Linked DNA regions of Homo sapiens: regions 1, 2, 3, 4 and 6 are each linked to region 5. Evidence: fine-mapped expression QTL. A gene starts in region 5. Each other region holds a variant in brackets. All regions are shown on one strand. Distances are from middle to middle.

Evidence for each region. PIP is the estimated chance that this variant, and not a neighbour inherited with it, causes the effect.
Region 1: its variant is the best candidate, but not a certain one, in a credible set for the expression of ALOX5 in tibial nerve (GTEx, PIP 0.53).
Region 2: its variant is the best candidate, but not a certain one, in a credible set for the expression of ALOX5 in whole blood (TOPMed, PIP 0.50).
Region 3: its variant is the best candidate, but not a certain one, in a credible set for the expression of ALOX5 in cerebral cortex (GTEx, PIP 0.50).
Region 4: its variant is the best candidate, but not a certain one, in a credible set for the expression of ALOX5 in monocytes (TOPMed, PIP 0.52).
Region 6: its variant is the best candidate, but not a certain one, in a credible set for the expression of ALOX5 in whole blood (TOPMed, PIP 0.60).

What each region holds. Positions count from the first base shown.
Region 1 is chr10:45,583,570-45,587,569 of GRCh38, reverse strand. It overlaps a transcript of MARCHF8 not described here. Among named protein-coding and RNA genes, the nearest start is that of MARCHF8, 50 kb to the right of the region's middle. The variant C/T (reference allele first, on the strand shown) is at 1,657.
Region 2 is chr10:45,394,052-45,398,051 of GRCh38, reverse strand. ALOX5 (arachidonate 5-lipoxygenase) reads right to left here. Exons shown (of 14, transcript NM_000698.5): 3 at 2,116-2,197. Among named protein-coding and RNA genes, the nearest start is that of ALOX5, 22 kb to the right of the region's middle. The variant T/C (reference allele first, on the strand shown) is at 2,285.
Region 3 is chr10:45,349,175-45,353,174 of GRCh38, reverse strand. No RefSeq gene overlaps it. Among named protein-coding and RNA genes, the nearest start is that of ALOX5, 23 kb to the left of the region's middle. The variant TA/A (reference allele first, on the strand shown) is at 2,423.
Region 4 is chr10:45,552,963-45,556,962 of GRCh38, reverse strand. It overlaps a transcript of MARCHF8 not described here. Among named protein-coding and RNA genes, the nearest start is that of MARCHF8, 20 kb to the right of the region's middle. The variant C/A (reference allele first, on the strand shown) is at 1,758.
Region 5 is chr10:45,372,035-45,376,034 of GRCh38, reverse strand. It overlaps ALOX5 (arachidonate 5-lipoxygenase), which reads right to left and starts at 1,819. Exons shown (of 14, transcript NM_000698.5): 1 at 1,606-1,819. The coding sequence starts at 1,755. RefSeq lists enhancers at 832-1,440, 1,441-2,051.
Region 6 is chr10:45,440,645-45,444,644 of GRCh38, reverse strand. It overlaps ALOX5 (arachidonate 5-lipoxygenase), which reads right to left. Exons shown (of 14, transcript NM_000698.5): 9 at 3,215-3,301; 10 at 1,429-1,607; 11 at 1,108-1,229; 12 at 817-917; 13 at 359-529. LOC102724323 (a long non-coding RNA gene) reads left to right here. Exons shown (of 3, transcript NR_120674.1): 3 at 1-77. Among named protein-coding and RNA genes, the nearest start is that of ALOX5, 68 kb to the right of the region's middle. RefSeq lists enhancers at 936-1,704, 1,705-2,475 and a silencer at 2,832-3,063. The variant C/A (reference allele first, on the strand shown) is at 1,792.

The DNA of each region.
Region 1 (4,000 bases), 210 kb before region 5:
TTTTTTAAAAAAGAAAACAACTTGTGGTTTCAATTGGGATTGTCTTGGTTCTATAGATCAGTTTGTGGAGAATTGCTATTTTAATGTCATCGAACCTTTCAATACATGAACATGGTATAGCTCTCCATTTATTTAGTTCTTTAATTTCTTGCAACATGTTTTTTAGTTTTGCAGTGTACAGGTCCTATGCATATTTTGTTGAATTTATATCTTAATATCTTACATTTTTAATGTCATTGTAAATAGGATTAAAAAATCATTTCTCAAGTATTCCTTGCTAATGTGTAAAAATACAGCTGATTTTTGTATATTGTCTTTGTGTCTTGTAGCCTTTCTGAATCCACTTACTAGTTCTGGTAGTCTTTTGGTTGGATTTTCTCCACATACAGTCATTGAATAAAGACAGTTTTACGTCTTCCTTTCCACTCATGTGCTTTCTATTTCTTTTTCTTGCCTTATGACACTGATGAGGACCTCAAGTCCAATATTATGATAGAAGTGGTGAGAGCAGATGTCCATGTCCTGTTGTCAATTTGAGGGAGAAAGCATTTAGTCTTATATGTGGTACAAAAAGCACTAACTACAACATTTTAAAAATGTTAAATTGGACTTAATAAAATTAAAACGTATGCACTTTAGGAGATGTTAAGGAAAAGAAACAGTATACTATAGACTGGGAGCAAATGTTGGCAATTTATGTATCTGACAGAGGACTTTTATCCAGCATATATAAAGAACTTCAGTAAATTAAGAAGAAGCTAGAGAACTCAAATTGCAAAATCGGTAAAAAAAAAATTTGTGGAGCAACTTCACAAAATAAGGTATTTGAAATTCTAGTAGACATACTAAAAATTCCCAATATATTTATTAAAGGAAATTATGAGCAACTTTTTGCCTACAAGAAGGGTCAAAATGAAAAAGACTAACAATACCAAGTGTTGGTGAGGATGTAGAGCAATCAGAATTTTACATAAATTGCTGATAGGAATGTACAGGCACTTTGGAAAACTGTTTGACAGTTTCCTATTAACTTAAACATGCACTTACTGTATGACCTAGACATTTACACCCCTGGGTGTAAAATAAAACCTTAAATTCACAAATGACTTGTACTCAGTGCTTAACACCGGAAAGAGTATAATCTTTCAACAAGTCTGCAATGGGATATTAGGAGAAAAAAGGAGTGAATTGCACAGTGTCACTATATGAAATTAAAAACATTATGCTGAGCAAAAGAAGCCAGACAAAACACTACATTCTGTATGATTTGATTGATGTGTAATTCTAGAACCACCAAAACATTAAGAGAGCAGATTAGTGGTTGCCTGAGGTTATAGGTAGGGGTGGGGAATGACTGCAGAGGAGCAAAAGAGAACTTTCTGTGGTGATGGAATTACTCTGTATTTTGATTGGGTGGTGGTTATACTACGTATACACTTTTTATACACTTTTGTCAGAACTTCACATTATGCTTAAGATGGGTGCATTTTATTTTATGTAAATTATGTCTTAATAGAGTTGTTTTTAAAAAGGGTCTAAAAAGCATTTACAGACTGAACATATACCTATGTGTATATATACTGAGATTTTATGTAAAATATTTAAATGTATGTATACTCATAGGAAATGTCTAGAAGGATGTTAAGCAAATTGTTA[C/T]TAATTATGTCCAGGTGGTGAGAATTTTAGGTGATTAAAAAAATGATTGGACTCTTTATATCATTTGAATTATTCCTTTCAATGAACACATCTTTGCCAAAGAAAAGAAGTTTTTTTTGTTATGTAGAAGTTTGATTATCTAGATGTTTTCATTTTTCAAATATTGAATAGATATTACAATATTTATAAATTATGTATAGAATGTAAGTGCTGTTATTCTGTAATCACCAGTTAGGAACAATCTACATTACTTTTGATGCCCTTCATCTCTCTTCTCTGATCCCATTCTGTTATGTTCCCAGAGACATAACTGCTACCCTGAATTTTGTTTTTATTATTTCATTGCTATAGTTTTACCACATTTGTATCTCTAAGCTGTGTTGTTTTGCCCTGCATGCTGTTGAACTTTATGACTAGAATTGTATTGTGGGTAAACTTCTTTCATTTGCTTTTTTATTCCGTATGAGATTTGAGACTCATTCATATTTTTGTATGGCCGTAGTTCATTGGTGTCTCCTTGTCTTATTGTGTTACATTATGAATATTCCACAATTTGTCCTTTGTAGTACTGATGAATGACTGGATTGTCCATTTTTTTTCTATCATGAGCAGTGGTGATGTGAACATTGTGCATGTCTTTTTATGCTCTTGGGCAAGAGTTTCTCTTTGTGTATGGTCAGGTGTATAGCTGCTGGGTTGTAGGATAATGCATTTCTTCAACTTTTCTAGAAGTAGTAGTTTTCTGTTGCTGTGTAACTAATTACCACAAACTTAGAGGCTTAAAACAACACACATTTTAAAATCTCATGGTCCTATAGGTCAGAAATGCAGTAGGCTTGGCTGGGTTATCTGCTCTGGGTCTTAGGAGGCTGAAATCAAGTTGTCAGTAGGACTGCATTCTTTTCTGGAGGCTCTGGAGATAAATCAACTCCCACACTTATTTGGGTTGTTGGTAGAATTCAGTTCATATGGTTGTAGGACTGAGGTCCATGTGTCCTTGCTGGATGTTAGCTGATGGTCGTTCTCAGCTTCTACAGGCCATACATTTCTTGCCTTGTGATCCTCTTTCTTTCTTCATCTTCAAAGCCGGCAATAGGAGGTTGAATCTCTCTCATGCTTTGAATCTCTCTGACTCATATTTTTTTCCTTCTCTAGATGGAGACCATTCTCTGCTTTTAAGGGCTCATATGATTTGATTGGGTCCACTGGGATAATCTAGATTACTCTATTTTATCTCCGTGGTCCTTTCACAGCTATACTCAAATTAGTGTTTGAATAACCAGGGGCAGGAATCTTGGAGGACTATCTTTAGATTTCTGACTACCACTGTATATAATGTTGTTTTCCATAGTGGTGGTACCAGTATGCATTTACCTTAGCAGACATTGGAGTTCTTGTTCCATGTCCTTAATATTGTCACTTAATATTGTCAGATATTTAGGCTGAGAAGTGGTATCTCATGGTGTTTTTAATCTGTGGGTCCATAATCTGTGGGTCCATATTTATCCATAAGTAAAGATAGTTTTATTTTGTTGCTTTTTAAAAAGTTTTACATAAATAATTTTATTCTGTATGTATTCTCTAACATGTGAGATTTTCCCTCAGATTTGTGCTTTTGTGGTTTGAGTTTTAATAACTACTGTATGGTGTTTTATTGTATGAATAGATCACAATTTGTTCATTCTTTCATTGATGAAAATTTAGATTGTTTCTTAGTTCTTGTGAATGTGTGAGAGAATTTCTTGATATATATATATATATATATATATATATATATATATATATATGATTGTATATATGTTGGTAGAATCTAGAAGTGGAAATCATGTGCATCTTCCCTGTTTTACTATATAGACTTACAAAAAGTAGATTCTTTCCTTTCCTCCTTTTTTTTTTTTTTTTTTTTTGGAAATGAAGTCTCGCTCTGTCACCCAGGCTGGAGTGCAGTGGCACGATCTTGGCTCACTGCAACCTCCGCCCCTCCAGGTTTAAGCAATTCTCTGCCTCAGCCTCCGGAGTAGCTGGGATTGCAGGCGCGTGCCATCACCTTCCCTCCATTCTTTTTTGCTTTCTTTTGTTACTGCTTTTATCCAATCTGACAAGCATATGTCTTTATTGTCTTTAAAAGAGCTACACAGGTAATGTCACAATGCTAAAAAAGTCAAATACTGTAAGTACATAAAGAAAAAGTCTCATCTAGTTATACTGGGTATTTTAATAAAAGTAGCATCATACTACATACTATATTTTGAAATATGCTTTTTCACCTAGATCAATACATACAGATCCGCATTCTTTTAATAATGATGTAGTATTCCTTTGCAGGTTGAGTTTTATTTACTAT
Region 2 (4,000 bases), 22 kb before region 5:
TTTATCAAGATTGTTTTGGCTATTCTGGGTCCCTTCCATTTCCATATGAATTTGCAGAATTGACAGCTTGTCAATTTCTGCAAAGAAATCAGCTAGAATTTTGATAAGGGTTGTGTTGAACGTGTACATTAATTTGTGGGGTATTGCCATTTTAACAAAATTAAGTCCTCTGATTCATGAACATGAAATGTCTTTCAACCTATTTAGATCTTCTTTAATAATGTTAAACAATGTTTTGTAGTTTCATTGTACAAGTCTCAGACTACTTTGTTAAATTTATTCATAAATGTTTACTGTTTTTGATGCTATTGTAAATTGAACTTTTTCTTACTTTTATTTCACATAGTTGGTTGTTAATGTATAGAAAAACAATTGATTATCTTGTATCTTGCAATCTTGGTGGTTTATTAGTTCTAATAATTTCTTTTGGTGAATGCCTTCAGATTTTCTATATATAAGATCATGTTATTTGTAAATTGTGGTAGTTTTACTTACTGTACTCCATTGTGGGTGCCTTTACTTATCTTTTTATTCCCTAACTGAGCTGGCTAGACCCTCCAGTACAATGTTGAATAGAAGTAGCAAAAGTGAACATCTTTATCCTGTTTCTGGATTCAGCCTTTCATCATTAAGTATAATGTTAACTGTGAATTTTCTTTTTTTGTGTATGTGGGGGGACGGAGTCTTGCTTGTCACCATGCTGGAGTGCAGTGGCATGATCTCAGCTCACTGCAACCTCCGCCTTCTGGGTTCAAGTGATTCTCCTGCCTCAGCCTCCTGAGTAGCTGGGACTACAGGCGCATGCCACCACACACAGCTACTTTTTGTATTTTAGTATAGACGGGGTTTCACCATGTTGGCCAGGATGGTCTCAATCTCTTGACATCGTGATCCACCCGCCTTGGCCTCCCAAAGTGCTGGGATTACAGGTGTGAACCACCACGCCCAGCCTAATTGTGAATTTTCAAACCTTTATCAGGTTGAGGACATTTTCTTCAATTCCTATTTTTTGAGTGTTTTATCATGAATGGGTGTTGGATTTTGTCAAATGCCTTTTTTGTATGTCTATTGAAATGATTATGTACTTTGTTTTGTTTTGTTATTTACTCTATTGATATGGTGAATTCAATTAATTGATTTTTGGATGTTAAACCAACTTTGCATTCCTGGGCTAAATCCCACATGTTCATATTGTTTAATGCCTTTTATATACTTCTGGGTTAGGTTTGCTAGTATTTCGTTGAAAATGTTTATATCTATATTGCTAAGGGATATTGGTTTATAGTTTTCTTGTGATGCCTTTAGTTTTGGTATAATATGGGTATGAGACAATGAATTGGGAAGTGTTCCTTCTATTTCTTAAAAGAGTTTATGCAAGATCAGTATTAATTCTTTAAATGTTTGATAGAATTAGCCAGTGAAGCTATCTGGGTCTGGGCTTCTATTTGTGGGAAATTTTAGAATTAGTAATTCAATCTCTTTGGTTGTGATTGTTTTATTCAGATTAACTATTTCTTCATGAGTCAGTTTTGGCAGTTTGCGTCTTTCTAGGAATTTGCGCATTTCATTTAACTAGTTTGTTGGCATGCAATTGTTCATAGTATTCTTTTTTATTAATTTTAATTTCTGTATTGATTTTCCCTCATTTTATGAGTCTCATTTTTCCTTTTTTATTCATTTTAATTTCTGTATTGATTTTCTCTTATTGCTCATTTTAATGGTTTGAATCCTCTGGTCAGTTGGCTGAAGAGTTGTCAATTTTATTGCTGATCATGTATCACTTTTATAATTGAATTGTTATAAGAAGACATAAGAAGTAAGAGGCAACCCCTACAATGGAGAACATTAAGGTACACTCAAGCTTTTCTGCCCATTCTTCCTACATGCCAATATGGTTGATCCAAAGTTATTTTCATTACTCTCCTCTCCATCTCTTGTCTGGAGTTGTAGGTAAGGTGAAGTTTGGGGATTGTGCACCCACACTGGGAGCTGGTGCCTTGGTGACTTTCCAGCAGTGACAGGCCATACACTGTGGAAAGGGTTTATTTCATACCATGCTCTTGAGATAGAAGAAACCATGGCCCCGTGGCCACTCGATCTGATGTCATAACTCACCGATATTGTTTTTGCCGTGTTTCCAGTTCTTTACGTCGGTGTTGCTTGAGAATGTGAATTTGGTCATCTCGGGCCAACTTTGCTGTAAAGAAAGAACAACATGAGAGGAGCCTGAGGAAGAACAATAACAATGCCCAATGCCAAGTGTTCAGGCTTCCCTCAGATGCCC[T/C]GCCCATGCCGAGTGCTTTATGTGCATGACCTCATTTGAGCCTCAGAGCACTTCCCCAATTAATGATGAAGAAACTGAGGCTTAGGGAAGTTGTGTAGCTTTGCTCTTGAACTTTACCCAAGGTCACACACCTAATTAGTGAATTTTCTTTTTTTTTTTTTAATTCTACTTTAAGTTCTAGGATACATGTGCACAACGTGCAGGTTTGTTACATATGTATACATGTGTCATGTTGGTGTGCTGCACCCATTAACTCGTCATTTACATTAGTTATATCTCCTAATGCTATCCCTCCCCCTTACCCCCACCCCATGACAGACCTTGGTGTGTGATGTTCCCCTTCCTGTGTCCAAGTGTTCTCATTGTTCAATTCCCACCTATGAGTGAGAACATGTAGTGTTTGTTTTTTTGTCCTTGCGATAGTTTGCTGAGAAGGGTGATTTCCAGCTTCATCCATGTCCCTACAAAGGACATGAATTCATCCTTTTTTATGGCTGCATAGTATTCCATGGTGTATATGTGCCACATTTTCTTAATTCAGTCTATCATTGATGGACATTTGGGTTGGTTCCAAGTCTTTGCTATTGTGAATAGTGCTGCAATAAACATACGTGTGCATGTGTCTTTATAGCAGCATGATTTATAATCCTTTGGGTATATACCCAGTAATGGGATGGCTGGGTCAAATGGTATTTCTAGTTCTAGATCCCTGAGGAATTGCCACAGTGTCTTCCACAAAGGTTGAACTAGTTTACAGTCCCACCAACAGTATAAAAGTGTTCCCATTTCTCCACACCCTCTCCAGCACCTGTTGTTTCCTGACTTTTTAATGATTGCCATTGTAACTGGTGTGAGATGGTATATCATTATGGTTTTGATTTGCATTTCTCTGATGGCCAGTGATGATGAGCATTTTTTCATGTGTCTGTTGGCTGCATAAACGTCTTCTTTTGAGAAGTGTCTGTTCATATCCTTCGCCCACTTTTTGATGGGGTTGTTTGTTTTTTTCTTGTAAATTTGTTTGAGTTGTTTGTAGATTCTGGATATTAGCCCTTTGTCAGATGAGTAGATTGCAAAATTTTTTTCCCATTCTGTAGGTTGCCTGTTCACTCTGATGGTAGTTTCTTTTGCTGTGCAGAAGCTCTTTAGTTTAATTAGATCCCATTTGTCCATTTTGGCTTTTGTTGCCATTGCTTTTGGTGTTTTAGACATGAAGTCCTTGCCCATGCTTATGTCCTGAATGGTATTGCCTAGGTTTTCCTCTAGGGTTTTGATGGTTTTAGGTCTAACATTTAAGTCTTTAATCCACCTTGAATTAATTTTTGTATAAGGTGTAAGGAAGGGATCCAGCTTCAGCTGTCTACCTATGGCTAGCCAGTTTTCCCAGCACCATTTATTAAATAGGGAATCCTTTCCCCATTGCTTGTTTTTGTCAGGTTTGTCAAAGATCAGATGGTTGTAGATGTGTGGTGTCATTTCTGAGGGCTCTGTTCTGTTCCATTGGTCTATATCTCTGTTTTGGTACCAGTACCATGCTGTTTTGGTTACTGTAGCCTTGTAGTATAGTTTGAAGTCAGGTAGCATGATGCCTCCAGCTTTGTTCTTTTGGCTTAGGATTGTCTTGGCAATGCGGGCTCTTTTTTGGTTCCATATGAACTTTAACGTAGATTTTTCCAATTCTGAGAAGAAAGTCATTGGTAGTTTGATGGGGATGAC
Region 3 (4,000 bases), 23 kb after region 5:
CTCATTGGAACTTCTTGACTAAGTGGAAAGATACACTTCAATCCATGACACACACAAGACTCAAATAGGCTTGATGTATTTGTGATTAGTGTGAACTCAATTCTTGTTTTTTCAGAAGGAAGACCAATTCTCATACTCATCTTGAAACCCGTCTGACATTGTTCCTCCCAAGATTAGATAATCACGACAGAGCACCTCTACTCCTAACTGAACACGCATAAAATAAATAATTCCATCCCAGTCTGAGTGCGGGTCTCTCCCCAGAGGTCTACCCTGATTCTCTGCATGAAAGAGCCACTGGTTATTCTCCTCCCTTTATGCTGCGGGAGGCTAATTGCACTCACCACTACCTAGTACTGTTTTTAACTTTTCCTGTTTATTGCCTGTGTCTCCCACTAGAGGCTGAGTGATATGCGATGTGATCTTCTCAGTTTTGTTCACTTTTACATGTTATCCCCACAACAAGGTTTGTGGTGAGGCGTGGGTGGGAAAAAGGGAAATAATTCCTTCCTTCTTTCCTTCGTTCTGTCTCTCCTTTCTTTCTTTCTTTCTTTCTCTTTCTCTCTTTCTTTCTTTTTCTTTCTTTCTTTCTTTTTTTCTTTCTTTCTTTCTTTCTTCCCTTCTTTCTTTCTTTCTTTCTTTCTTTCTTTCTTTCTTTCTTTCTTTCTTTCTTTCTTCCCTTCTTTCTTTCTGTCTCTTTCCTTCTTTCTTTCTTTTCTTTCTTTCTTTTTCTTTCTTTCTTTCTTTCTTTCTTTCTTTCTTTCTTTCTTTCTCTCTCTCTCTTTCTTTCCTTCTTTCTTCTTCTTCTTCTTTTTTTTTTTTTTTTTTTTGAGACAGAGTTTCACTCTTGTTGCCCAGGCTGGAGTGCAATGGCACGATCTCGGCTCACTGCAACCTCCACCTCCTGGGTTCAAGTGATTCTCCTGTCTCAGCCTCCTGAGTAGCTGGGATTACATGCACATGCCACCACGCCTGGCTAATTTTTGTATTTTTAGTAGAGACGGGGTTTCACCATGTTGACCAGGTGGTCTTGAACTCCTGACCCCAGATGAGCCGCCTGCCTTGGCCTCCCTAAGTGCTGGGATTACAGGCGTGAGCCACCACGCTTGGCTGGAACTAATAATTTCTTAAGCACTCTGTGCTAAGATATTTTACATACTCTAGCTCATTCATTCTTACAACAGCCCTGGGAGGTGACTGTCATTACTCAGTTTTACAGAGAAGGAAACCCAAGTTCCAATGTCTCCTAAATGGCATCTTGTGTGTTTGAACGTTTCAAGTTTGTGAGGAGTGCAATCAGTATCCAAGAAAGTGCCACTTAGAAAGAAAAAGGCTTAAAGAAGGAAAATGTTCTGGGATGATGAAAATCTAATACCTAAAGGTGTCAATTATGGATGTGATGTTAACTAACCTTTATTGGGCTTCATGCTGTTGGGCACTGCATTGGGCACCTTATTTGGGTAGATATTATTCTCATCCCCATTTAATAAATGCAGAAAGTAAGATAAGCAGGGATCAAGTAACATTCCCAATATCACATAGCTAGTACTGATGAGGCTGGGATTTGAATCTTGGTCCTCTAACTTCAGGGTCCAGATTCTAAACAAAGATGTGGGGAAGAAGGGAGGTGTAACTTGTAAAATGAATGAAAAATAATGCTTTCCTTTGAAGTGTTAGATTTAGGGTTCAAGCATTTTTGATCCCTGAGACTAATTATAATAGCATCAACTAATTTGCATGGCACTTCTTACATTGCAAAGAATTTTCTCACCTGCAAGTTTGTGGTAATCCTCATATGGCTTTGAGATGACTTTGAGAAATAGGAGAAGTCAGTGTTCATTGTTTTTTTTTTTTTGCAGAAAAATGTTTATTTCCCAATTTTCAGGTTTTCATTCAGTGAAACTTTTCATGATGATTTTGAAATTTATAAACAAAACAAACAGGAATCATTGGAAATGATGAAAGTCAGGTATGAACCACCCGACAACATGGAGAAAAAATAGAAAACAGTTATTGATTATGGTCAGAATTCTGCCATAATCAAATTCTTACCTGCCCTCTTCTTGTTCCTTAGAATAAGAATCTAATTAGCTGGCTTTATTCCTAGACAGACATAGTTGTGACTGTGTTTCATTGATTTTGGGTAGCAAACATACTTGGATGAACCTACAGTCATTTTGAGAGAAGAGCATGGTCTCTAAAGATTGAGCATGGTCAAATGAGAAAACAAAGTTACTATCTACAGAGTTTGGGGTGAAAATACACAACCGATGATATCAAAATCATACTTTATAAATGGTGGTATTTGTGTTTAATGTTATCACTTAATAGACCTACTCACTGACAGCATAATACAAATCTATTATTCTTTCAGAGTTATAAAGTTATATAGCATTAAAAGCATTTTATAAGCTTATTTTTT[TA/A]TTATTATACTTTAGGTTTTAGGGTACATGTGCACAACATGCAGGTTAGTTACATATGTATACATGTGCCATGTTGGTGTGCTGCACCCATTAACTCGTCATTTAGCATTAGGTATATCTCCTAATGCTATCCCTCCCCCAACCCCCCACCCCACAGCAGGCTCCAGTGTGTGATGTTCCCCTTCCTGTGTCCATGTGTTCTCATTGTTCAATTCCCACCTATGAGTGAGAACATGCAGTGTTTGGTTTTTTGTCCTTGCAATAGTTTGCTGAGAATGATGGTTTCTAGCTTCATCCATGTCCCTACAAAGGACATGAACTCATCATTTTTTATGGCTGCTTGGTATTCCATGGTGTATAAGTGCCACATTTTCTTAATCCAGTCTATCATTGTTGGACATTTGGGTTGGTTCCAAGTCTTTGCTCTTGTGAATAGTGCCACAATAAACATATGTGTGCATGTGTCTTTATAGCAGCATGATTTATAATACTTTGGGTATATACCCAGTAATGGGATTGCTGGGTCAAATGGTATTTCTAGTTCTAGATCCCTGAGGAATCGCCACACTGACTTCCACAATGGTTGAACTAGTTTACAGTCCCACCAACAGTGTAAAAGTATTCCTATTTCTCCATATCCTCTCCAGCACCTGTTGTTTCCTGACTTTTTAACGATCACCATTCTAACTGGTGTGAGATGGTATCTCATTGTGGTTTTGATTTGCATTTCTCTGATGGCCAGTGATGATGAGCATTTTTTCATGTGTCTTTTGGCTGCATAAATGCCTTCTTTTGAGAAGTGTCTGTTCTTTTCCTTGGCCCACATTTTGATGGGGTTGTTTGTTTTTTTCTTGTAAATTTGTTTGAGTTCATTGTAGAGTCTGGATATTAGCCCTTTGTCAGATGAGTAGATTGCAAAAATTTTCTCCCATTCTGTGGGTTGCCTGTTCACTCTGATGGTAGTTTCTTTTGCTGTGCAGAAGCTCTTTAGTTTAATTAGATCCCATTTGTCAATTTTGGCTTTCATTGCCATTGCTTTTGGTGTTTTAGGCATGAAGTCCTTGCCCATGCCTATGTCCTGAATGGTATTGCCTAGGTTTTCTTCTAGGGTTTTTATGGTTTTAGGTCTAACATGTAAGTCTTTAATCCATCTTGAATTAATTTTTGTATAAGATGTAAGGAAGGGATCCAGTTTCAGCTTTCTACATATGGCTAGCCAGTTTTCCCTACACCATTTATTGGCTAGCCAGTTTTCCCAACACCATTTATGAAATAGGGAATCCTTTCCCCATTTCTTGTTTTTGTCAGGTTTGTCAAAGATCAGATAGTTGTACATATGTGGCATTATTACTGAAGGCTCTGTTCTGTTCCATTGGTCTATACCTCTGTTTTGGTACCAGTACCGTGCTGTTTTGGTTACTGTAGCCTTGTAGTATAGTTTGAAGTCAGGTAGTGTGATGCCTCCAGCTTTGTTCCTTTGGCTTAAGATTGACTTGGCAATGCAGGCTCTTTTTTGGTTCCATATGAAATTTATTTAATTAATTAATTTGTTTTTTTAGTATTTATTGATCATTCTT
Region 4 (4,000 bases), 180 kb before region 5:
TTTTTACCACAAGAAAAAAACAACCATTTTTTTATGGAACATAGACTTAAAAGGTTAAGTACATACAGGGTTTTGGATTTTTTGTCTTTTTAATACTTGATTCTATTTACTCATCCTTTACTACAAGTTGGATCACTAGATTAGGGTTTTGGAAGGTTTAGCAGAGCAGAGAAGTATAGCAAACAGAATTCGTTCATTTAACATTTATTGAGCACTTCCTGGGTAGCAGGCCCTATGCTTTAAGTTGATAATTCAGAGAAATAAGGGACTTGACCCCCAGATGCCTCTTTTGTGGAAAGAACCGGAGAAGCCGTTTTAACATAAAGCAGGAAATCCTGAAAAATTTTATATGCCATTAACATTTTATTATTAAAGCATACAGACATACAGTCATACATCAAAGTTTCAAAACTTTTATTATGGAGAATTTAAAACATACACAGAAGTAAAGGAAGAATACCGTGAACCGCCTTGTGCCTGGCTCTAGCTGGCATCCACTCATAGCGTCTTTTGTTTCTTTATATCCCTCTCCCAGTCCATTTTTGGGGGTACATTCTTGTTCTTTTCATTTTATCTGTAAATATTTTAGTACTTTCACTGAAAGATAAGGGCTGTTTTTCTTAGAATGAATCACACAATACCACTATCATCCCAAAGTTATTTCACAGTTTTGTGTGTGTGTTTGTGTGTACTGTGATTTGTTTGCATCAGGATGTAAACAAGGTCTACACATTACATTCGGTTGATAGGTTTTCTTCAATATCTTTTAAGCTATAGGTTTTCCTTATTTTCTGTCTTATTGAAATGTTATTTACTGAAAAAATCATGCCGTTTATCTTGTGCACTTGCTCATACTATTATATATGAATTTTGCGAAATGATTTTTTTGCTTTGAAACAGTAGTGACCACTTATTCTTCACATAGATCCATTACTTAATCATGGGCATGCAAGATGTTGCAATTCTAATTTCATCATTCCTTTTTCATTTATTCGCTGGAATACTAGTACAGAGAAGACTCTTTTTACAGACTGTTCAGTTACCCAGAGGTATAGCTTATACAGGGAAGTCAGGTTAAATGAGTGACTCTTTCTCTTTACTTACAACTCTTGGAGGGTCCCTAGCATTTCCAAAAATGGCCAGTGCTTTTTCCTTTATTTAAAAAGTATCATTATAAACACATACTCTTTTCTTTTTCTTTTTCTTTTTTTTTTTTTTTGAGACAGGGTCTTACAATGTCGCTCAGGCTGGAGTGCAGTGGTGTAATCATGGCTCATTGCAGCCTCAACCTCCTGGGCTCAAGCGATCCTCCTGCCTCAGCCTCCCAAGTAGCTGGGACCACAGGCATGCACCACCAAACACAGCTAATTAAAAAAGAAATCGTTTTTGGAGAGATGGGATCTCACTGTGTTGCCCAGGCTGGTCTTGAACTCTTGGCCCTCAAGAGATTTTCCTACCTCGGCCTCACAAAGTACTGAGATTACAGGTGTGAGCCATCACGCCCAGCCAGCATGTGAATTTAATATGTTTGATGATTTCTTAAGTTCATTGCAGTTATTCTTTAATGAGTTAATTACATTAATTAATGATAGATCTCACTATGTTGCCCAGGCTGGTCTCAAGTGATCCTCTCTCCTTACCCTCCCAGGTAGCTGGGACTATAAGGCACAAACCAGTTTACCCAGCCACAGTTATTCTTATTAATGATCAAATTGTCCCTTCTTTTTTTCTTGAGACAAGAGTGTTGCTTTTGTTGC[C/A]CAGGCTGGAGTGCAATGGCATGATCTCAGCTCACTGCAACCTCTACCTTCTAGGTTCAAGCGATTCTCTTCCCTTGGCCTCCTGAGTAGCTGTGATTACAGGCATGCACCACTACGCCCGGCTAATGTTTTATTTCTTATTTTTATTTTTGGAGACAGAGTCTCACTCTGTCGCCCAGGCTGGAATGCAGTGGCGCAATCTCAGCTCACTTCAGCCTCTGCCTCCGGGTTCAAGCAATTCTTCTGCCTCAGCCTCCCAAGTAGCTGGGACAACAGGTGCGCACCACTACGCCTGGCTAATTTTTGTATTTTTAGTAGAGACGGGGTTTTATCACATCGGCCAGGCTGGTCTTGAACGCTTGACCTCAGGCAATCCGCTAGTCTTGGCCTTCCAAAGTACTGGGATTACAGGTGTGGGCAACCACGCCCGGCCCTAATTTTATATTTTTACTAGAGATGGGATTCTCCATTTTGGTCAGGCTGGTCTCGAATTCCCGACCTCCGGTGATCCCCCTGCCTCAGTCTCCCAAAGAGCTAAGATTACAGGCATGAGCCACTGCACCTGGTCCACATTGTCTCTTCTTTGGCCAATGGGAGTGCCTTCACATTAGCTCCTGGGTCATTTTGGCATGGGTGCTTCTGATGGCTTCTTGCTTTCTTGTGTGACAAGATGTCCAGGCTCATCTTGTACATTAACAGCCATAGATCTGGAATTATCCCTTTCTTTAACCAGCCCTGGTTCCTTTCAGAGGGAAATTGTATTTAGTGACCACAGTCTGGAAACTACAGATTGGTTGTTACTTCTAGGCCTTTTCAGTGAATGGGGCTAGGAAATACGTTATTTTTAAGGTAAAATATTTTATGAGTTTCATACTGATTTTTCCATTATAAACTTAGGAACAGATGATTTTGTTGAATTTCTTTAATTTTATCTTTGTCTCATGCTAAAAATTTTGGTTCTTGATCATAATCATATTGATACCATTACTTGTCAGTGTTACTGCTAACAATATGATTACTGAAAATAGTTTAAGAATTAAAAGCACTTTCCCAAATTCTTTTCATTTTTAGGATAGATTCCTATAGGGATGTCTGGTAAAACTGTTTTAAATCATTTGAAATAATTCCTTTTTGCATGATTATACCACCAATTCAACAAATATTTAGGGTCATTTCATTTTGCTTTTGAATTTTAGAGATGACAGTTTTTCAATTATTTTTTAAACAATTATGGAAAACATATACATGGTTCCAGAGCTAAATGTGTAAAACAAGGCAGAATCAGAGAAATCCATCTCTGATTGTGGTTCCCTCTATTTTTTTTCCTGCATTCCATTTAAAACATGAGCAAGAGTGTGTGTGTGTGTGTGTGCATGTCCATGCATGTGCACACACGTATAGTTTCTGCCTCCTAATCCCGTCTTAGGTGAATGGTAGCACACTATGTATAATTTTCTTCTTGCTTTTTTGTCTTCCTATTTTTCCTGCTGATCACTCCATAGAAGTATATAGAGACATTTGTCATGCCTTTTTGTCTATTTCATTGTGTGAATTTACCAGTTTATTGTCAGTCCCATATTAATGGACATTTGGATTGTCTTTAGTGTCTTGCTGTTAGAAATAGTGCTGCAGTGAATACCTTGTATATACATACTTATTTTTTGTTGTTGTTGTTGTCTTTTAGAGGGATATTTCAGTTTTAAATAAAACAACTTGACTTCAGGAAGTATTCAAGCGTAATGTTACTGCTACTGATGGATTGTTCTGGGAATAGTGGAGGATGCAAAAGGCCAGTCTTGTGATCTAGGGTAGTAATCTTTCTTTGAGTATTATGGGTCCTCTCAGTTCTGTATTATTGTTCTTGTAAAAACCACATTTATAGAGTAGCTTCTGTGTTTTCTAGTTTCACTCTGTTTAAAGTAGATTGAGACTTTAGGAACATCTGAAGCAGTCAGAGCATAGAATTCTATCTTTTTTTTTAAATGTAAATTTTTTTTGTAGAGATGGGGTCTTGCTGTGTTGCCCAGACTGGTCTCAAACTCCTGGCCTCAAGTGATCCTTCTGCCTCAGCTTCCCAAAGTACTGGGATTACAGGTATGAGCCATTGCACCTAGCCAGGATTCTGGTATTTTAGTGTTGTTTTCTAGTCTTTTATAGTTGTTTTATATATACTCAATTTGTCAAAAAATTTTAAGGAAAGTAATATGCCTGTATGGATGCTTTCCAAAGTATTCAACATAGGT
Region 5 (4,000 bases):
GATGTGTGGAGGAGAATGGGGAGGAGGAAGCACTTACAAAGGGGAAGTAGCCTGTACCCTGTCCTTCTCCCCCAGGTGTGGGGAATCCATGAAATAATGGAAGTAAATGAAGGTGCGTCAGAAATGGCAGAGGGTGCCATCACCCTAAATGGACGACACATTAACTCCAGGGCACCGCAGTCCTCAGGGTCAGTTCCCCGACTGGGGCAACTAAGCAACTGAAGGTTGCTCTTGTACTCAACACCTAACTCTTCTTGAAGGGAGCTCAAGCCAGGATGCTAGTGAACTTGGCTGAGGGCCATGTCGTGCTACAGCGAGGGTATGGGCTCCTGGATAGGAATCGAGCCCATGGAGAGCTTGGAATCCAGAAAAAGAGTAGTTTTTACTTACTTTAGGCTCTGCACACCTAAAACACAAATTTTATCCAAGAGTAATCAGTTGAAACATGAACTTGCCGGTTGTATTTGTCCATTATGAGCAATTTCACAAGGTTTGATCAAATAATAAACTAAATGGTGAGAAGGCAGCTTGGTAAAGTCTAAATCTTTTTGGTCCAGTTAGGAGCTGGGGTGGGGTGGAAGGGAACTGATATTCCCTGCGCACCTGCAGTATGTCTGGGACTATTACCAGTCATTTACGGAGCGCTTCCTCTGTGCCAGGTACTGGATTAGGCACTTCATTAAAGGCTCAGTGAGAACTGCGACCTGCCCATGCTCATGGAAAAGAGTCGTGGGGCTGGAATTCAGGTCCAGATCAGCATTAGGAACTAGCTTCCAAATGCTGAGGGCTCCCTCGCGTCCTCACACCTAGCGTGGAAGTGTTCCCTGGTGTACATTCTGCTGGGAGGGAGTGCAGCCCCTCCATTTAGGAAAAGCCTCTCCTGGCCTGGGTTCTGTTCCTTCCCTTTAATTTCCTCTGGGGACTGTCCTGAGAATGTAAGCTGCCCAGGTGCCGTCTGAGCCACCAGATGGGCCTGGGCTCACCCATGACTCATGGACCAGACTGAAGCCAACCCTCCATTTTCAGCTGGGGAAACTGAGGCCCAGACAGACGGTAGAGTGAGCTGGTGGTCATGTCTGGACAGAACTCAGGCCTCTGGACCCGCTGACGTGCACCCTTCCCCACGGCTCACAGCTGGCTGCTCCGAGGTGCCCTCAGAGTTCTGTGAGCATGACTCATCTGCCTCTCCCTCCCTGTGCGACCTGCAGAAGGAGCCTAAGGAAGAGGTGGCACAAGAAACGCGGCCCAGTGAAGGGGGCTCCGGAGCCTCGGAGCCCAGATCTTGAAGTGGAGGGGAAACCTTGGGCCTTCTCCTCCCAGGGAAGACGCCTTGCAGGCGGCACGCGGGAAGTCTCCGTTTCCGACAGGGGTCGCGGCCGCCGCGAGGGGTCCTGGACGCTTGCCCACCAGGGTACCCACCGGCCACTGGGAGCCCAGGGCACGCCCCACCGCAGTTCTGCCCTCCCTGACAGGGTCCTGGACACCCCCAGTCCTGTCCGGGCCGCCCCGACGGGCCCTCGGCGCCCCCGCCCAGGCCTCTGCCGTCCAAACCGGGTCCCGGACGCACCTCAGCCCGCGCTCCACCCGTGCCCCGCCCGCGCTCACCGCGCCACGCTCGAAGTCGTTGTAGAAGGGCTTGTCCAGCAGGTGCTTCTCGCTGCAGCCCGCCGAGCCCACGAGGCTGAGGTAGATGTAGTCGTCAGTGCCGGCGAACCACTGGCTGCCAGTGGCCACGGTGACCGTGTAGGAGGGCATGGCGCGGGCCGCGGGAGCAGCGAGCGCCGGGAGCCTCGGCGCGGCGGTCCAGGTGTCCGCATCTAGCGCCGCAGCCTCCTCCCACCACTGGTCCCTGGCCCCGGTCCCGGCCCCGCCCCGGTCTGGCTCCAGGCTCCCGGCTGCCCCCGCCCCCGCCCCCGCCCCCGCCCCCGCCCCCGCAGTACTTCTCTCCCACTCTTCACGCGGCGCCGACTGGGCGGGACCTCGCCTCGGGCGGGGCAGGGGCCTCGCTCCTGGGTCTCTCCTCAGCGAGGTGTCTGTTCCTGCAGCCAGGGGACTGGGGCAACCTCGGCTGCCACCCCTCATCCATTCGTTCACTCGTTCTCTCCTGAATTGCTTCCACCCTTTGCCCTGCCTGCCTGCCTCGGCTTCGCCCAAGGCCAGGCTCCTGTAGGCCCTGGGGTGGAGCTGCGGGGACTCCCTACAAATCTAGGCACAGCCTCTGCTCTCCCCAAGTTCTCAGTGCCACTTGCGGTACTTGGAGCAGGGGTGCTCCGGGAGTCTGCAGAGGAAGAGCGACCCATGAGAGAATCAGAAGGGCTTCCTGGAGGAGGCCACCCCAGCGCTGATACTGAGGATGGATTCTGGAGCACAGAGGCTCCTTCAGCGCGGGCTTCTTCACTGGCTGGACCTGCGGCTCCTGGCGGGGGCAGGCGGGCGCCGAGACCGCGCCCAGGCCCAGAGATGGCCAGTGGTCGCGGGAGGCAGGCGGGACGGCACATCTGGACATGCGGGGCTGTCTAGGGGAGGCCAGGGGTCACGGGTCGGCTCTCTGAATCGCGGCGGGCAAATGCCTGGAAGGGTGTGGAGAAGGTTTCGCGCGCTCCTGGGCGGCTTCCCGCGGCTGGGGCCTGACCCCCAGGTTCCCGCCCACTCCTGGCGCCCGCCTCTCCCAGCCCCGCCGGCAGCGCAGGGTCTGACGGGCACACAGTCGCGTGTATTGATCTCGGCTAAGTTTAAACACTAGCTCACCGTGCGTGGGGCGGCGGGGATGTGAAGTCCCCAAAGGCGGCTGCCTACATTCTCACCAACGCTTCATGTCTGTGAAGCAGCAGAGTCCCTGTAGCATCTCCTCATACTGTCTTGGGTTTGTGCACCTGGCAAATGGCTTTGAACATCTTTTCACATGCTTGTTGGATATCTGTATATTTTTGGAGAGATGTATATTCAGATGCTTGACTCTTTGGAAAACTGGGCTATTTATCTTTTTTATCATTGAATTGCATTATTTATATATCCTGGATAGAAGTCTCTAATCGGATACATGACTTACAGACATTTTTATTGCTTCTGCGGGTTGTGTTTTCACTTTCTTGATGATGTTTGAAGCACAAAAGTATTTAACTTTAAGTCCAATTTCTTTTGTCGCTTGTGATTTTGGGGTCCTATCTGAGAAACCACTGCCTACAATAACATCTTAAAGATTTACTCCTAGGTTTTCCTCTAGGATTATTATAGTTTTAGCTTTTCATTTACATCCGTGACCCATTTTGAGTTAGTTTTTATGCATGGAGCGATAGAAGAATTCAAATTCATTGTGTTGCATGTGCATGTCCGGTTGTCCATGCATCATTTGTTGAATTCATTATTCTTTTCCCATTGCGTTGTCTTGACACCTTATTAAAAAGTAATTCATTATAAACATAACGGTTTATTTCTGGACATTGATTCTAGTCCACTGATCTGTAATGTACATGCTATACAGTGCCACACTGCTTGATTACCGCAGTGCTATAGTAAGTTTTGAAATTGGAAAATGTTAATCCACCAACGCTGTTCTTTATTTTTCAATATTGTTTTGGTTATTCTGGATCCTTTGAGATTCCATATAAATTATAGAATCAGCTTGTCAATTTCAGCCAAAAAGCAAGCTAGGATTTTGATAGGGGTTGAGTTGAAGCTGTAGATCAATTTGGGGAATATTGTCACTTTAACAATATTAAGTCTTCTGATCCATAGAATATGTTTCAGCTTATTTAAATCTTTTCTTTTCTTTTCGACTCTTTGGAGTCTCCCTCTGTTGCCCAGGCTAAAGTGCAGTGGTACAATCTCGGCACACTGCAACCTCTGCTTCCCAGGTTCAAGTGATCCATTTACTTAAATCTTTTCTGATTTATTTCAAAATATTTTGTAGTTTTCAGTGCACTTTTTATTTCTAAATAATTTATGTTTGATACTATTGTAAATGGAATTTTAATTCATTTTGAGATTGTTAATTGCTAGT
Region 6 (4,000 bases), 69 kb before region 5:
TGCACGTGTCCGGAAGGAACCCAGGAAACTCTTGGTCATTCCCTCTGGAGTACCAGGGTAAAACACATGTGCAAGAACTTTGTCAATAGCTGGGGGGAGGGGGCGTCACACACGACCCTCTGGTGACAGTGAGCAAAGCCTGGGCTGTGTGCTCTCCTGCCCTGCACACCCTGAGCTCTGTCCAGGCTGAGGCCGGGGGACCTGGTGGCGGCTGCAGCCTTCTGGGCCCTTCCAGCCTTGGAAGTCAGGATTCCTTTGCTCCAAGTGAGCCTTGGGGCCCGAGTCACAAAGCCCTGAGGCTGAGGAACCGCTTAACCTGGGGTGACCTGGGGCTGTGCCCCGCCCTGCCCAGCTTCACCTCGTTTTCCTGGAACTGGCTCAGCGCCCACACTGCACCCAGATGCCAGCAGGAGCGGCCGCGGTCGGGCAGCGTGTCCACGATCTGCTCAATGGTCACCACGCCCTTGGCAGTCGGTGGCGGGGCTCGCATGGTTGGGGGCGCATTGGGGATCCAGGAGCACCAGTCGTACTGCGGAGACGACCGCCAGCAAGCGTGGGCACCCCCGAAGCCCTGCTGCCCAGCTGCCCCCTGGGCCCCGTCCTCCCCGTGCCCCCCAACTCCAGCGGGCCCTGCAGTCCGTCCATCCTCTTTCCCCGCGGCCAGCGCCCTTGGCTGAGCGGGCAGAATCCATCCTGCAAGTCCCGTGCCAGGCCCCGAGGCTGTCCGAGGGTGCAGTACGCGTGCAGAACCGGGGCGGGGGAGGAGGCAGCGGCCTTGAGAAGGGAGCCCTGCCCAGCGGGCCCGGCCCTGCCTACCTGGCCGAAGTTGACCGCGGCGTGCTGGGCGGAGGCGGTGAAGATCACCACGGTCAGGTACTCCGACAGCTGCTCCCGGCTCTTGACCGACTTGGGGAAGCCTAGGGTGGAACCACCGGCGGGCTGAGGCCCAGTCCCTGAGGACCCCAGGGCCCGGCGCCCACCCCGTGCCCGGATTCCCTGCCCCAAGGCCGGAGGGCACCCTGGGCAGGACACCCCGGAGGGGTGGCGGAGGGGCCAGCGCTGCCGACTGCGGGGGAGCCGGGTCCGGAGACGTCCCGGAGGCCCTACCTGAGGACTTGCGGCCCCGCATGCCGTACACGTAGACATCGTTCACGAAGTCCTGCAGCTCCGGGTCCTCCTCCACCACCTGGTCGCCCTCGTAGTAGATGTCTACCACCTCGGCCGTGAACCTGGCTCAGGGGGCGCAGCCGGGGTGGGCGACCCAGCCAGGTCTGCGGAGCGGTGCCCGGCGGCAACCCCCTCACGGACGCTGGGACTCCCCCACCCCGTCCCCATTCAGCGCTAGCGGTGGAGGGGCCAGGCCCGCCCCAGGTAGTCAGGCAGGGGTCCCGGCTCCTCCCCCAGGACCACCGCCCCGCGGGCGCTCACGTCCTGATGGCTTCCCACACCAGGAGCCCGTCGTCCCGGTAGAAGTAGTAGGGGATGTCTTCTTTGCTCTCCATGCCCCGGGCCTTGATGGCCTCGGGAAAGCACAGGGAGGCATAGGTCAGGTCCTTCATGGCCCTCTGCACCATCTGCACGTGCCCACCGCCCCCTGTGGCGTTGGCCTGGAGTGGGAGGTAGAGTGCCCTGAGCGGGTGGCTCCTCCCACAGCTGTCCAGACCCATCCCTGAGGAAATGTGCCAGGGGAGGCGAGGAGGCCAGGCAGGCAGAGGTGCAAGCCCTTGTCCTGTGAGATGGGGGAGGGATGTTTAACGCAGAGAATGACAAGGGCAGCCGGGTGGAGAGGTG[C/A]TAGGGAGGAGCCTCCCGCCCAATCCAATGCAAGGGACTGAACCGTGGGGCTGCAGAGTACAAGAGGGAAGGGTGCGCTCCCAGCCACAGGAGGGCAGCAGGCGTGGGCAGGTGTGTGGGGGACCCCAGCACCAGCGGGCCTGGGCTGTGAAGTCTGCTCTAGTGCTGAGCACACGACCCTCAGTCATTGCTCTCAGTGACCCTCAGTTTCCAGGACCCATGCAACTCTGTTGAGGGCCTGTTGTGTGCTCAGGTGAGGGCTGGAGAGACCCACAAGGAGGGATCCTGGTCCTGATCCCGATCCCGGCTTCTGAGTGATGCAGACACACTCACAAGCTCACTGGCACATATGTGTGTCCACGTGCACACACACACATGCAAATACACCCAGGGGGCTGGGCTGTCGGTGCCACAGAGGTTTTGAAGAAGGACTTGGGTGCTGGGGTGCCAGAGATTGGTCCACGGTGGGCATTCAGCCCAAGCAGGACCAACCAGAGCTGCCCCCCAGCACTTTCTGTTTAGATGCGGCTGGGAGATAATGGCCACATGAGAACCTGAGGTGGAGCTACTATGATGAGCTCCTGTGCCCTCTCCCATGGGGGCCTGTCTGCAGCAGGAGAGTGTGATGCCAACACAGGTGAAAGAGACAGAAAGAGGGAGCCAGTGTGCATGCACCCTGGGGCATTGCTTGAGTCCCTGGATCCATTTCTGGCTGAGGCCCCCGACCCTCTATTGTGTCCAGGTATTTGAGATAAGGCATGTCTTGTCCAGCTGCAGCTGGTTTGAGTTGGGTTTTGTCATTTGCAGCCCAAACAGTGTCTCAACTTCAGTGGTCATCTGGCCTGGTCACTAATGGGCTGGGGAAAGGAGGAAGGTTGGGGCAAGGGCCCATGTGAGAGTCCAAGCTTGGTAAGGCTACAGAGGGCTCAAAACGAGGTGGGGTGCTACCTGAGGGATGCGAGGGCTGGGCAGGGCCTGGAGTCCCCGATGCAGGAGACAGTGGGTTGGGAGGGTTGGGACCCGGGAAGCAGAGTGCTGGGGAGGTCCAGGTCAGGGTGGCAGGGGTGTGGCAGATTAAGAGGCAGACACAGGTTCCTGGTGCGTAGGAGGTCAGGGGGCCATAAGGAGTGTGTTCCAGAGGGGGGTCTACACCCAGGTCCCAGAGGCTGGGAGAGGGGAGGGGTGGGAGGAGGGGACCAGGAGCCATCAGTGAGAAGGAAGACCTGGTGGTGCGCCTGGAGGAGTGCTCCTGGCTGAATGGCACGGGCTGGAGACATCAGGAGGATGCTGGAGCCAGTGCTCTGAGCAGACTCCAGCCTTCACCCTTCCAGGCCTCCTGAAAGGGTGTCTAGATCTCAGATAGGGAGTGAAGGCGGCCAGGCTGGGCTCTTCCAGGCAACAAGTAGGGTAGGAGGGCACCCACCTTGTCAAAGAGGCCACACTCGCAGATGAGCTGCTCACGGGCCTTGGTGTTGATTGCAATGGTGAATCTCACGTGTGCCACCAGCAGCTGGGGAGGGGAGAGGAGGAGGCCTCAGAGGGGGCCCAGTCAGGTGACCTGGTGCCTCAGGGACCCGCAGCTCCCCCACCCAGGCCTGCCCTATAGGATGATGCTGGGCGCAGGGAGGAAGTGAAGGCTGGGTGCTGATCTTTCTGCTGAATAAGTGCTGGAGGCCTGCACCCCTCTGATGCTTACTAAGCATGATAATGATTCAGAGGGTCCTGGCCAGCACTTGTACAATGCTTACCTCTTTGCTCCCTGAGTTCACTGTCTTAATCTGACCATCATTCTGTAAGGCAGCTGTACTATTTGACCTGTTTTACTGGTGAGGAAACTGAGGCACATGGGTACTTTTAGCATGCAGTCACCCCAGCAGCCAATGCTTGTAGGATTCGAGAACAGGGACGGAGAGTGATGGCAGGGGCGGCCATCAGCATCAGCCGAGGATCACCATGAACTCATTTGCCTTTTCCAACTCTACTGGCTGGCCAGCGAGGCCCGTGTGTCAGGCCCATGCCCCAGCCGCGTGTCCTGGGGAACAGCAGGCTCCTAGCTGTTTTCTTCCTTTAGGGGCATTACTGACTCTGAGAACATCTCTCCAGGGCTCCCTTTCTGCCACCCACTCCCAGCCACAGGTCCCCCTGTGGGATGTCAGTGATCCCTCCCACTCCACATCTCAGATGCCCTCCCATAGCAGGTGGGGCGGTA